2 separate regions of the Homo sapiens genome follow, and region 1 is linked to region 2. Evidence: fine-mapped expression QTL. A gene starts in region 2. The other region holds a variant in brackets. All regions are shown on one strand. Distances are from middle to middle. Region 1 has its middle 19 kb from the start of GABRG3. Region 2 holds the start of GABRA5 (gamma-aminobutyric acid type A receptor subunit alpha5).

Evidence for each region. PIP is the estimated chance that this variant, and not a neighbour inherited with it, causes the effect. A credible set is the group of variants that fine-mapping cannot tell apart.
Region 1: its variant is the best candidate, but not a certain one, in a credible set for the expression of GABRA5 in testis (GTEx, PIP 0.62).

What each region holds. Positions count from the first base shown.
Region 1 is chr15:26,949,691-26,955,073 of GRCh38, reverse strand. No RefSeq gene overlaps it. Among named protein-coding and RNA genes, the nearest start is that of GABRG3, 19 kb to the left of the region's middle. The variant A/T (reference allele first, on the strand shown) is at 2,266.
Region 2 is chr15:26,864,268-26,869,629 of GRCh38, reverse strand. It overlaps GABRA5 (gamma-aminobutyric acid type A receptor subunit alpha5), which reads right to left and starts at 2,568. Exons shown (of 11, transcript NM_000810.4): 1 at 2,519-2,568; 2 at 837-901; 3 at 296-455. The coding sequence starts at 381.

The DNA.
Region 1 (5,383 bases), 85 kb before region 2:
CAACATCATGACTTGTCCTTCTCCAAGGTGATAGTATTGTTATACAAATTATGCTTATAAACTCAACAATATAGCTTCATAATTATTGTTTCATACAATTGTCTTTTAAATTGGTTGAAAGAAGAAAAGAGTAAAAACTTTATTTACATTTTATATTTACCCATGTAATTTCCTTTATGGTGATCTTCCTTTCCTTGTGTGAGTTCAAGTTAACATTGATTTATCATTCCTATATACCTTAAAAGACTTCCTTTGGTATTTCTTGTAGAGTAGGGCTGCTATAAATGTATTGTCTCCATTTTTATTTACCTGGGCATGTCTTTATTTCACTTGCCGTTTTGAAGGGTAATTTTGCTCAATATAGAAGTTTTGGTTGATGGTGGGGGGTTCCCTGCTTTGTTTCAGCACTTTGAATATGTTGTCTCACTGCCTTCTGGCCTCCATGGTTTTTTATGAGAAGTCAGCTGTCATTCTTATTGAGGATCCTTGTATATGATGAGTCTCTTCTCTCTTGCTTTCAAGATTCTCCCTCTGTCTTTGGCTTTCAACAGAACAATTACGTTGTGTCCAGGTGTGTATCTCTTTAAGCTTACTATATTAAGACTTAGTTGAGCCTCTTAGAAGTGTAAATTAATGCTTTTAATAAATTATGGGAAGTTCAACCATTATTTCTTATTATTATATATTATATTCTTTCTTCTTATTATTATTAAATAGCTGATTTAAAGTCTATTTACTAAATCCAACTTCTGGGCACCTTGAGGGCCAGTATCTTTTGATGGTTTTGTTTCTTGTATACAGGCTGCACATCGCAATTTCTTTGCATGCCTCCTAATATAATAAACTGGAAACACTAGCCATATATTTTAATACCATTGAAATCTAATCATCCCTTTCTCCCACTATTTATTGTTGTTGTATTTTGTTGTTGTTGGGGTTAGGCTTTGTTTGTTTACTTTCCTGGACCAGTATGCTAGTGTTTGCATTCCCTATACTGAAGTCTCTGTCTGTTTTCATTTTTAGTCCTGGCTTTATAGGGGTCACCCATATGTCAGCATAGCTTAGGGCAGCCAATGATCGGTCTTTAATTTTCTTGAATGCTTTATGGTAATACATTTTTCACCCTTTGCTGTGAGGATCTGTGTGTAGTTTGGAGCATGCTTTCAAAGTTTAGGCAGATTAAGTCTTCCTTGTCTTTCACTTTTTGCTTTCACAGGACATCAAGGTCAGCCAGGGATGAGTAAGTAACTAAGACTCTCTCTGCTCTTTCTTGACTGTTCACACGACCCTGCACATACACACAGGCTTTCAGATCCTCAGGAATATGTCTGAGATTTTTATAGTCCACTGTGAACTAGATCTGATTCCCCAGATCTTCCTTTTACATGTTTGGCTGGTGTCTTTCTTGCCTTAGCTGGCATCACTGTCTTGAAGGCTTCAGAGTTCACCTTCCTCAAGTGATGCTGATCATCATTATCATCAACAATGCTTTGGGAATAAAACTTTCCCATGGAGCTCCAAGTCGGGTCAAATAGTGGCAAAACTCTGGGGATGGGGCATTTTGTAGAGTTCCAAATTAAATCATCCCCCTCTGGTGGCAACAAGGCTTCTGGTCTTCATGGTACCATGCCAAGGAGCTGAGAGGGATATAGGCAAATCTCTAAGTTAAAATGGCATAGACCTCACTGTTCTTATTGAAGTTCAGTACTGTTTCTTCAGTAAACACTTTTAATTTGTTGTATGCCTTTGATTTTATTTCCGGAGTTCTGAAATGTCTGCTTTTATATAATCTTGCCAGCGTTTTCATTGCTTTTTGTGGAGAGAGGATTTACGGAGGACCTCAATCCACCACTATGCAAGTCTCACGTCTGGAAGATAAATTTACGTGGTCACCCGACCTAAAGGAGCAGCCTGTCACTCAAGCCCAGACAATTGTCACCTTGTGGGATCATGTTCCTAATGTTGTTAGGTCAACTATGGATAGGTTTACACAAATCTTTGAAATTCTTATTTTATAAATTCTTAAGAAAGGATTTCCTTTGGGTGGAATATTACCACCAATTTGCAATCCCTACCTGAAGGAGTTTCATCAAATCCAGTCCACCCACTTATCAGGATTCATTTCTTCAGTCAGTTCACATTCATCTAGCTCCTGCTACAGGCCTGGAATAATACTGGCTGGTAGGGAGACAATGATAGCATCATGAAGAATGTAGAATAAATTGGATTTAAATGAGCATATTGGATCAATTAGAGCTCACTTCA[A/T]ATTTTTCCTTCTGAGGTCTTACATTGCAAAATAGAGTGCCTGATCCTTGGTTTATCTGATTTTCAATCTGAACTCAGAAAAGTTAAGTAAACATTTCTTCAGACTTTTTTTTTCCTTAAATATCTCTTCAGACTTTTATATTAGGGAAATTGTGAAGAGTAAATATTTTTCAAATTACAAGTTTCCATAAAGAACCCACACTCATTTCAAAACAGGCTACAGAGCATTTGAATTTAGAGTAGAGATAGTCTATTGAAAATGACAGTGAAAAACAGATAATCATGTAAATCTTTGATGAAATGAACCTTTTTGCAGACTTCAAAATCATTACCTTATATCACTGCAAACCTGGCAAGTAATATCAGTGATCAGAGTAATTCATATTCAAATGCTCAACGTGTTTGCTCAGGGCACTGATTGTCCCAGATGTGCTAGTATATGGTAAAAAGACATTAAGACTAATTTTTAAATATTTAAAATACTGTTTTCACTGAGTAAACTGTGGAATTTCCAATTTTCCAAAGAAAAGGTTCTTTTTGATTTGAAGTTAGTTCTTACAATGAAGGATGATGTTGATTGAAGACTCAGTGTCACAGTGAGTTATGCTTTCTCTCGAGGCAGATCCCTCCCAAGGCAGTCACATCATCATTCAGGTGGGAGCTCTGGGAGGAACAATCACATCAAGATCCTTGGCTCTAGTCAATCAGTGCTCCTCTCTCTCTCTCTCTTTCTCTCTCTCTCTCTCCTTGAATGGTAGTTGGGGGGAGTGCTACCCTAACACAGGTCCATTCCATCAGGAGAGGTTTTGAAGATCACAGAAGCACACCCTTCTTTATATAAGAAGGGGCAAACTTAAAGATGATGTTTTCAGTGCAAAAAAGTGCAAAAAAAAAAAGTTTCTCTAGGGCATTGTTTATAGATAATCACTCAATCAGGGCTTGAAGCAAGATTTTCCATTTTAGGTTACATTTTTGTTCTAAATCAACTTCCATCTGGAAGCAATCGCATGGTATTGTGAGCCCTGGGTTAGAAATTATGAGGACTAAGATCTAGGCCTGCATGTCCTCCTAACTTTTGATACGATTCTGAGCCAATGGATTAACCTCTTTGGGCTGCAGTATCCCTGTTTATAAAATAGAGGTTACTCATTTAGTGTACCTGCTTCTCATAATTTGTCCTGTAAACTAAGAGTGTCTGACTGAGACAGGTCTTCATCAATTTAGGAAGTTTATTTTGCCAAGTTTATGGATGTACGCATGACACAGCCTCAGGAGGTTCTGACAACATGTGCCCAAGGTGGTTGGGGCACAGCTTGGTTTTATACATGTTTGGGAAACAGGAGACATCAATCAATATATGTAAGATGTACACTGGTTTGGTCCAGAAAGGTGGGACAACTCGAAGCGGGGACAGCGCTTCCAGGTCATAGGTAGACAGCCTGGTTTAGTGAACCAGTAAAGCAAAGAAAGCAATCAGATATGCATTTGTCTCACGTGAGCAGAGGGATGATTTTGGGTTTTGCCTGTCCTTTGTCCACAAGGAACTTCTTTGTGGGCAAATTGTGAGGGAGGTATGTAGCTTCTTATCTTTGTAGCTATCTTATTTAGGAATAAAATGGGAGGCAGCTTTGCCTGAGATAGTTCCCAGTTTCACTTTTCCCTTGCTTTAGTGATTTTGGGGTCTTGAGACTTATTTTCTTTTCACAGTCCCATGAGAGACATAAAGCATTATTTCTAAGACATGAGAATGACAAGTAGGTCAGAAGATTTACAACCTCCTTGTTAATCTTCAACAGAGGATGTTTGCTGTGCTATTTTAAGTTTGATAGTTACTCCAGGGGCATTTGAACCCAATTTTTTGTATACAGACACATACTTTGAGGACAACATTAGTCAAGGCTTTTCCTGGATAGGTCTTTAGATTCCAGAGAAAGTACAGAAGTAATACTGATTAAAAACACATTAGAATATTCTCTCTATTTGTGGTGATGTCAAAAGATATATGTGTAAATATCCTTGCTCTAAAAGTATGGTACTGTAATTTATAATTATTTTCAGAACTTTTTATTTCTTGCCTTGTTATCATTATCCCCAAGGTGATTCTTATTATGTTCTCATTAAAAATAACAAATGCTGAAATATCTACAATACAAAATCAGAAAGTAGAAAGCTAATGTGACCTTTTTCACTAAATATTCATCAGAATTAAGGTTCAGCAGCTTGTAAATGTGGTAGGCGTATCTTCAAACTGGAGCTCATTGGAGGTTTTCTGTAATGAAGGCTAGAACTTGTCAAGAAAGTTACTGACACCTGATATGGAAAACATCGTTTTCTACTGTGGCAGGGATTTGAGTTACACACAATGTACGTATCTGTCCACACTCAGCAAAGGTGCCGTTAATACTTGTGTATTTCACACTAAAAATTTTGCTTCAAATGAATAAAGCAGTAAGCTAGTATTGGACTCTAGTTATAATGACATGCATGCTGACATATGGAGTGGGAAATGCATTGCCATCTGAAATTTATTTTGAAATGTAGCAAAAAAAAAGAGATAGATTGAGGATGGGTGTATTGATGGACAGATAGAGGGAGAGATGACAGGTGGTGAGGACACCTGTTGCTTACTCTTCTATCGATGGATTGAGATGTTTAAAGAGGGTGTTTATGCATGTAACCATTTGGACATAATTTACAGTATATTTTTCTCCAAACCACAGCACAAAGCTAAACTCTACAGACTATAGGAGAGGAATGTAACTATATAGTATACGAAAACAGGATCTTCTACTGAGCCTTAGGTTTGTTTTTTGTTTTTGTTTTTTTTTTTTTGGCTGGGATTTTTGCTGTGGTATAAGAGAAAACACTCTCATTATACAAATATCATCATTATTTATAATAGGGAAATGCTTCTTCATGTGCGCACTGAAGAGTATCTTTTCTGCTGGTCTTTACCCTTCCATTTGTGAGATCCTAAAACCAGTTAATGAAGGGGCAACGCAGGAGTTCAGGACTAGCCTGGGCAACATAGTGAGACCCCTGTCTCTTTGAAAAATTTAAAAATTAGCCAGGCATGGTGGTGCATGCCTGTGGTCCCAGCTACTTAGGGGTCTGAGGT
Region 2 (5,362 bases):
CCTGAGTAGGAAGAATCACAGCTGACTCGGATATCATCTTCAGCTTCCATTTCTGAAAACATAATCTGCCTTTTTTTCTCTGACTCACTTCAGAGACCCCACGTGAGGAGCAGCCTTGCTCAGGAAGAAAGCGTGGGTCAGGGCAATGACTTCATTTATTTACAACAAGTGAAGGGCTTGGGACTGCAATGGTGGCAGGCGAGGACTTGCTCAATGGATGTGCTGCTCCCGTAACATGTCTGAAAGGCACCAGTGTCCCTAACATCATAAAATAAAAGCACAGATGGTAACTTACCCAAAGTGACTGGATAAGTTCATGGAAATACAAAAGAGAAGGAGGTTTTTGATCATGATAAAACCAGAGAACATTCCATTGTCCATTCCCAATAAGAATAGTAGTTGAAGCAGGTGAATATGGAGGAATAACTCTTCCCTTCTCCAGCTTGTTCTTGAAGCTGAAAAGCACACAAAGCGGGGAAGCACGTGAACATCAATGCTGTTGTGTCACAGTTCCTGGAATCAAATCACACTGCTATCACAACAATTTGCAAAGAAAGGAGCCCGCTGTCCTTCCCCAGGACAGCTGCACACCAGGTATTTTCCATCACCCTCACTGGGCAGTAAGTTGGAGCATAAAAATAAGTAACAAGAGGCTTATTTTTACTTCTACTCAGGGTGCAGAATCACCCTAATTCGTTGTTTTCCACTCAAATACTCTGTTTTGTTTTTTAGCATGTTATCAAATAAACCATTAGTCCAATTATTAAAATAAACGCTGTAGTTATCTGAGCGACTGTATTTTGTATCCGTCAAATCCACAAGTGTAGTAATTTTACCTTTCTGAAATATCTGCCACGCCACGCGTTCAAAGCCAGCAAGCTACTCCTCTCTCTGCAAGGCACTGAGAAAGTACGTGGAAAGAAGTGGGGAAAAGCACATTTAAGAAACAGGTTTTCTGCAGGATCACAATACTGTGACAACTGCCTATAAAAGAGTGTGGCTACTTTCCCGGCATTCGGTCCCCGTGACTACATAACTTAAGCACTGCATCTGTGGAAGTCTCTCCACTCAATGCTGGACCCTAATTAATGTATTTGAGATCCAGGCAGACATTGTCCCTGGGCTCAACGACTAACCTTCCTGAAAACACGCATTTCTCAGTATGCGCATAACGCAAATAGGTGCTCACAGGCATCCGAACAGTATGCTTCGAAAAGAAGCATTTTCCCAAGAAGCCCCCCCAACCCCCATCCCCCGCAAACTCCGGAATTGGGAGACACAACAGGTACTTCCACCTCGGAAGCGAAGGCCTTCTGCGACTCCTGCCAAGAAGGGCAGGGTGCCATGCGGTGGTCGCCTGGGCGCGTCCGGGGGGCTCGTCGCGGGGCCCGGGCCAGAGCCAGGCGGCGAGCACGCGGCGCTGCATGCGGGAAACCCGGGCGGCGCCTCCCGCCGCCCCTCAGCCCCGAGCCAGGGACCCCCAGGAGAGGCTGCGCTCCCACGACCCTCCGGACCCCCACAGAGGCTCACCAGGGCCGGCGCGCCAGGGCAGGTGGGCGCGGGGGCTGCACTGCGGAGCCGCAGCCTGGGTCGCCCTGGCACCCGCGGTCGCCACCCGCGCGGTCCGCAGCGGCACGCCGAGGGTCTCCAGCTCCCCGGCCCTCCCCGGCTCGCTCCCGGCTTTCGCAGACTTCCCCTGCTCCTGCCCCGGGTACGAGCCAAGCGCTCCGCCAGGCAGCGCCTTCCTCCTGGGCTGGGAGCGCGCGGTGCAGCAGCGACTCCAAGTCCCCTGGCCTCGAGCAGCCCGCGCGACACGCGCGCGACACCCCCGCGGGGTCCGAGTCCACCCCGCGAGCAGCGCCGGGACGCCGCGCGCCTCAGAGCCCCGGGGCTGACGCTGGCTTTCCAGGTGGGCGATCTCACCCCTCCGGCTCCCGTGATGGTGGCAACGGGTGTCCCCCACCCCCAACCGGTCACCGCGCCCTGGTGCCCCGTCCGGCAGGGATGAGCCGCCCGGACCCCGCTCTCTCCCGCGCCCGGCTTCAGCCCCGCAGTCGCCAGGGTAAAGTTTGCGCTCTGGCCTGGCTGCGCGCCCCGCCTGCTCTGCACCTCTCCTCCCCGGCCACGCAGCCTGCCGCTCAGGCGCCCCGAGGAGAAGGGTGCGGACCGAGCCGGGGCGGCCGGTCCTCTTCCCCGCTCGCGTCCTCTTACCCCACTGCCCCGGCCCAGCGCGCCCAGGGCTCACCCTGCGCGCCGGCCCCGGGAGGCGAGCCGTCGGTGAGGATGCATCCTCCTTCTCCTCCGCCTGCTCTCGCCCGGCTGGCAGGCGCGGAAGGCCGGTGCGGCGTCACCGCCCCATGCTGCCAGCGCGAACTTCCCCGGCACTCCCGGCGGAGCGGCTCTTGCGCCCCGCGCTCCCGCCGCCGCCCTGCAGCTCCGCTCCGCGCCGCGCCCCGGGCCGCGCGCCGCCCGCCGCAGAGCCCCCCAGCGCCCCCGGCGCACTCGCGCCCGCTCTCACCTCGCCCGAGCGCCACATGTCGTCTCTGGGCTGGAGGATCGGCCCTCTGCAGAGGTGCTCCGGTAGAGGCCGCCAGACGCTCAGCAAATGCGCCCTTGGCCGAGCTGGGCGGAGGGGGAGGGCGCAGGGCCCCCGGCTCGGCCTGCAAGGGGAGAGGCCCTGTTCTGCTGAAGTTTCTCCAGGGCCCTCAACAGCATCTTCGGCGCCTCGTGTAGTCACCACCGCCCGCTTGTAGAGCAGGGATGGGAGGGCAGTGTCAGCAGTCGGGTGATAGAGGCCTGGACTCCGACAGCTTTGCTCCCTAGAGCCGGCCCCAACGCCTCCCTGCCCAGGCCTGGGTCCTTCCCGGGTGCTCCATGGCACCCCTTACATGCGCATCTCTTAGGCGCTTCTGAAAGAAGCTGGCCTGTGGACATTCTTTTCATCTCACTCATAGACAGGAATGCATAACTACGGGAGGGAAAGCCAGGGTCACATTGGACTCGATTAGAATGAAATCCTTACCTAACGCAGTGTATATCTGGGGGTTTTCTGAAGTTCCATTTCTTGACAACAAGCCGCAGTGGCAAACGGGAAAGGGCCAGGAGCCCTGGGGGCTGCAGGTCGGAGAGCGCCTCTGGGGTGACGGGGCGGGATCTCCCCAGCAGGGCTTCCGAGCCACGTCGGGTCACTGCCTCATTAGCCACGTACATGGGGTCTTACTATGGTCATTACGTCGGTGTGTCGTCCGTCCTAGTGGTGCAGTTCCTGGGAGGTGAGGGTGGCATTAATGACAACTGCGCGGCAGCAGGGCCCCTTCAAACAACACAAGTAAGAGCGCATCGTCTTGGGTTTGCCAGGTCTTGCTTCCTCAGGAGGTGGGGGACTCTCGACTATAACACCCAGTGGAAAACGTTCAAGACTCAAAGGAAAGCCACTGAAAACGTGATGGGGAGGTTTACTTACACCATTGTCCCATTCCTTTTGTGAAACTGCATTATTCATAATCTCTTTTAACAGAATAATGGTAAGTAAAGGCAAATTCCTAACTCCCCTCCAGGAAAGATCTTTGACCTTCCAGTGTAGGAAGCCTCTCATTTTTCCAGTTATCTCTAATACAGTGTATTCCAAATCTAAGTTACCTGTTAATACTTCTGCACATTCCAGAAATTCTGAAATTTTCTGAAAAACAAAACTTGTAAATCTATTCCAGGAATAGGACATAAATATACATAAATGTGCAAATATACAGGAAGTGTTTCTCTGAATATACATTTAGCCACACTATTAAATAACTGTTTCCAGTGGTTCTTCAGGAAATATGAATGAAATAAGATGCTAATTTGAATTTTCTAATTCTAAAATGGATCACTGAACGTATGCATTTCTTCATTTTCTAATTTCCCAAAAGATGTACCACTAGGGTGAAATTCCTTGGGAGACATTAAATTTTAAAAAGTTAACAACATGGTTTTATGATCAGCCTAATATAATTTTCACCTATTAGGTGTTGGAATTCTAACACCTAATACCAGCGACAGCTGCTCTTCTCTCAGGATTAAACAGCATAATGCAAATCAAAGAGTTGGAAGAATTGGTAAATTTTAAACTTCACAGCTTGTCACACAAAGTCATTCGGTGTGAGTTTGCAAAAATAAATGTATATAAACAAGGGATGATTTTTGTATTAGCGAGGGTTATAGACATTAATTCTTAATAATAAAAGAAATGTCAGCTGTAAGGAAATATGTTCTTTTGATGGATTATGTTTAAAACTTCCACTTTTTTTGGTACACTTTCTATCAGCTTTATGTCCACACAACACATATTATTGAATATATAAAAATCATTTTAAGTTAGAGTCATTCTTTAACATTGTATTTCAGCATGTTGCTTAAATTCTTTTCTCTTCCCTGTAATGAAACGGTATGCCACTCTCTCTCCTCCTAGTGTTTATGTAACATAACATAGCCTCACTTTAGATGGACTGCCCTGAGGGGACAGTGAAATCGTAAGGCCCATCAGAACCTTACAGAAACTCACATTGCTAGAAGAGTGCTTACTACCATTTCAATGATTTTTGTTTTACTATAGAATTCTGTATTTGTGCTGAGAAATAATAGGCTATCCGTTGAATTCCCATTTGTTTCATTAGCATTTTCTCTTCATTGAATGAAATTAAGCAATGTCGTGATCGTTGTGGAAGACAGTAGAGGGCACCCTAGTTCCACACAACCTCAGCCTTGGCCCGGGCTTCATAAGAATTTCATTTCCAGTGTCAGAGCCTAAAATAGCTGAAGGTGGGGAAGCTGGGCCATGAGTAGAACACGTGTTCACAGAGCACCCACCCTGTACCCCGGTCAGGGGCAGGAACTGAGACAGTGGCTGTGTTTGCGTGGTTGGGTGTGGTAAATGTGGCTGAGACATGAACACAGTGCCATGGTATAAGTGAGATCATGTGCTATTTGTCTTTCTGTGCTTGGCTTATTTCACCAAGCATGTTCTCCAGGTTCATCCATGTGGTCAAAAATGGCAGGATTTCCTTCTTTGTTAGGGCTAAATAATATACTGTCGTATATGTATGTTATACATATACGTGTGTGTGTGTGTGTGTGTGCGTGTGTGTGTGTACGTATCTCACAGTTTCTTTATTCATTTATCCATTGGCAGATGCTTAGGTTGTTCCATTATTTGGCTATTGTAAAAAATGCCAAAATGAACATGACAGTTCAGATCTCTCTTTCAGATACTGATTTTATTTCCTTTGACTATATCCCCAGAAAGGGGGTTACTGGGTATATAGTGGTTGCCACGGGCTGGGAGAAGGAGAGACGGGGAGATGTGGGTCAAAGGGTACAAAATTTC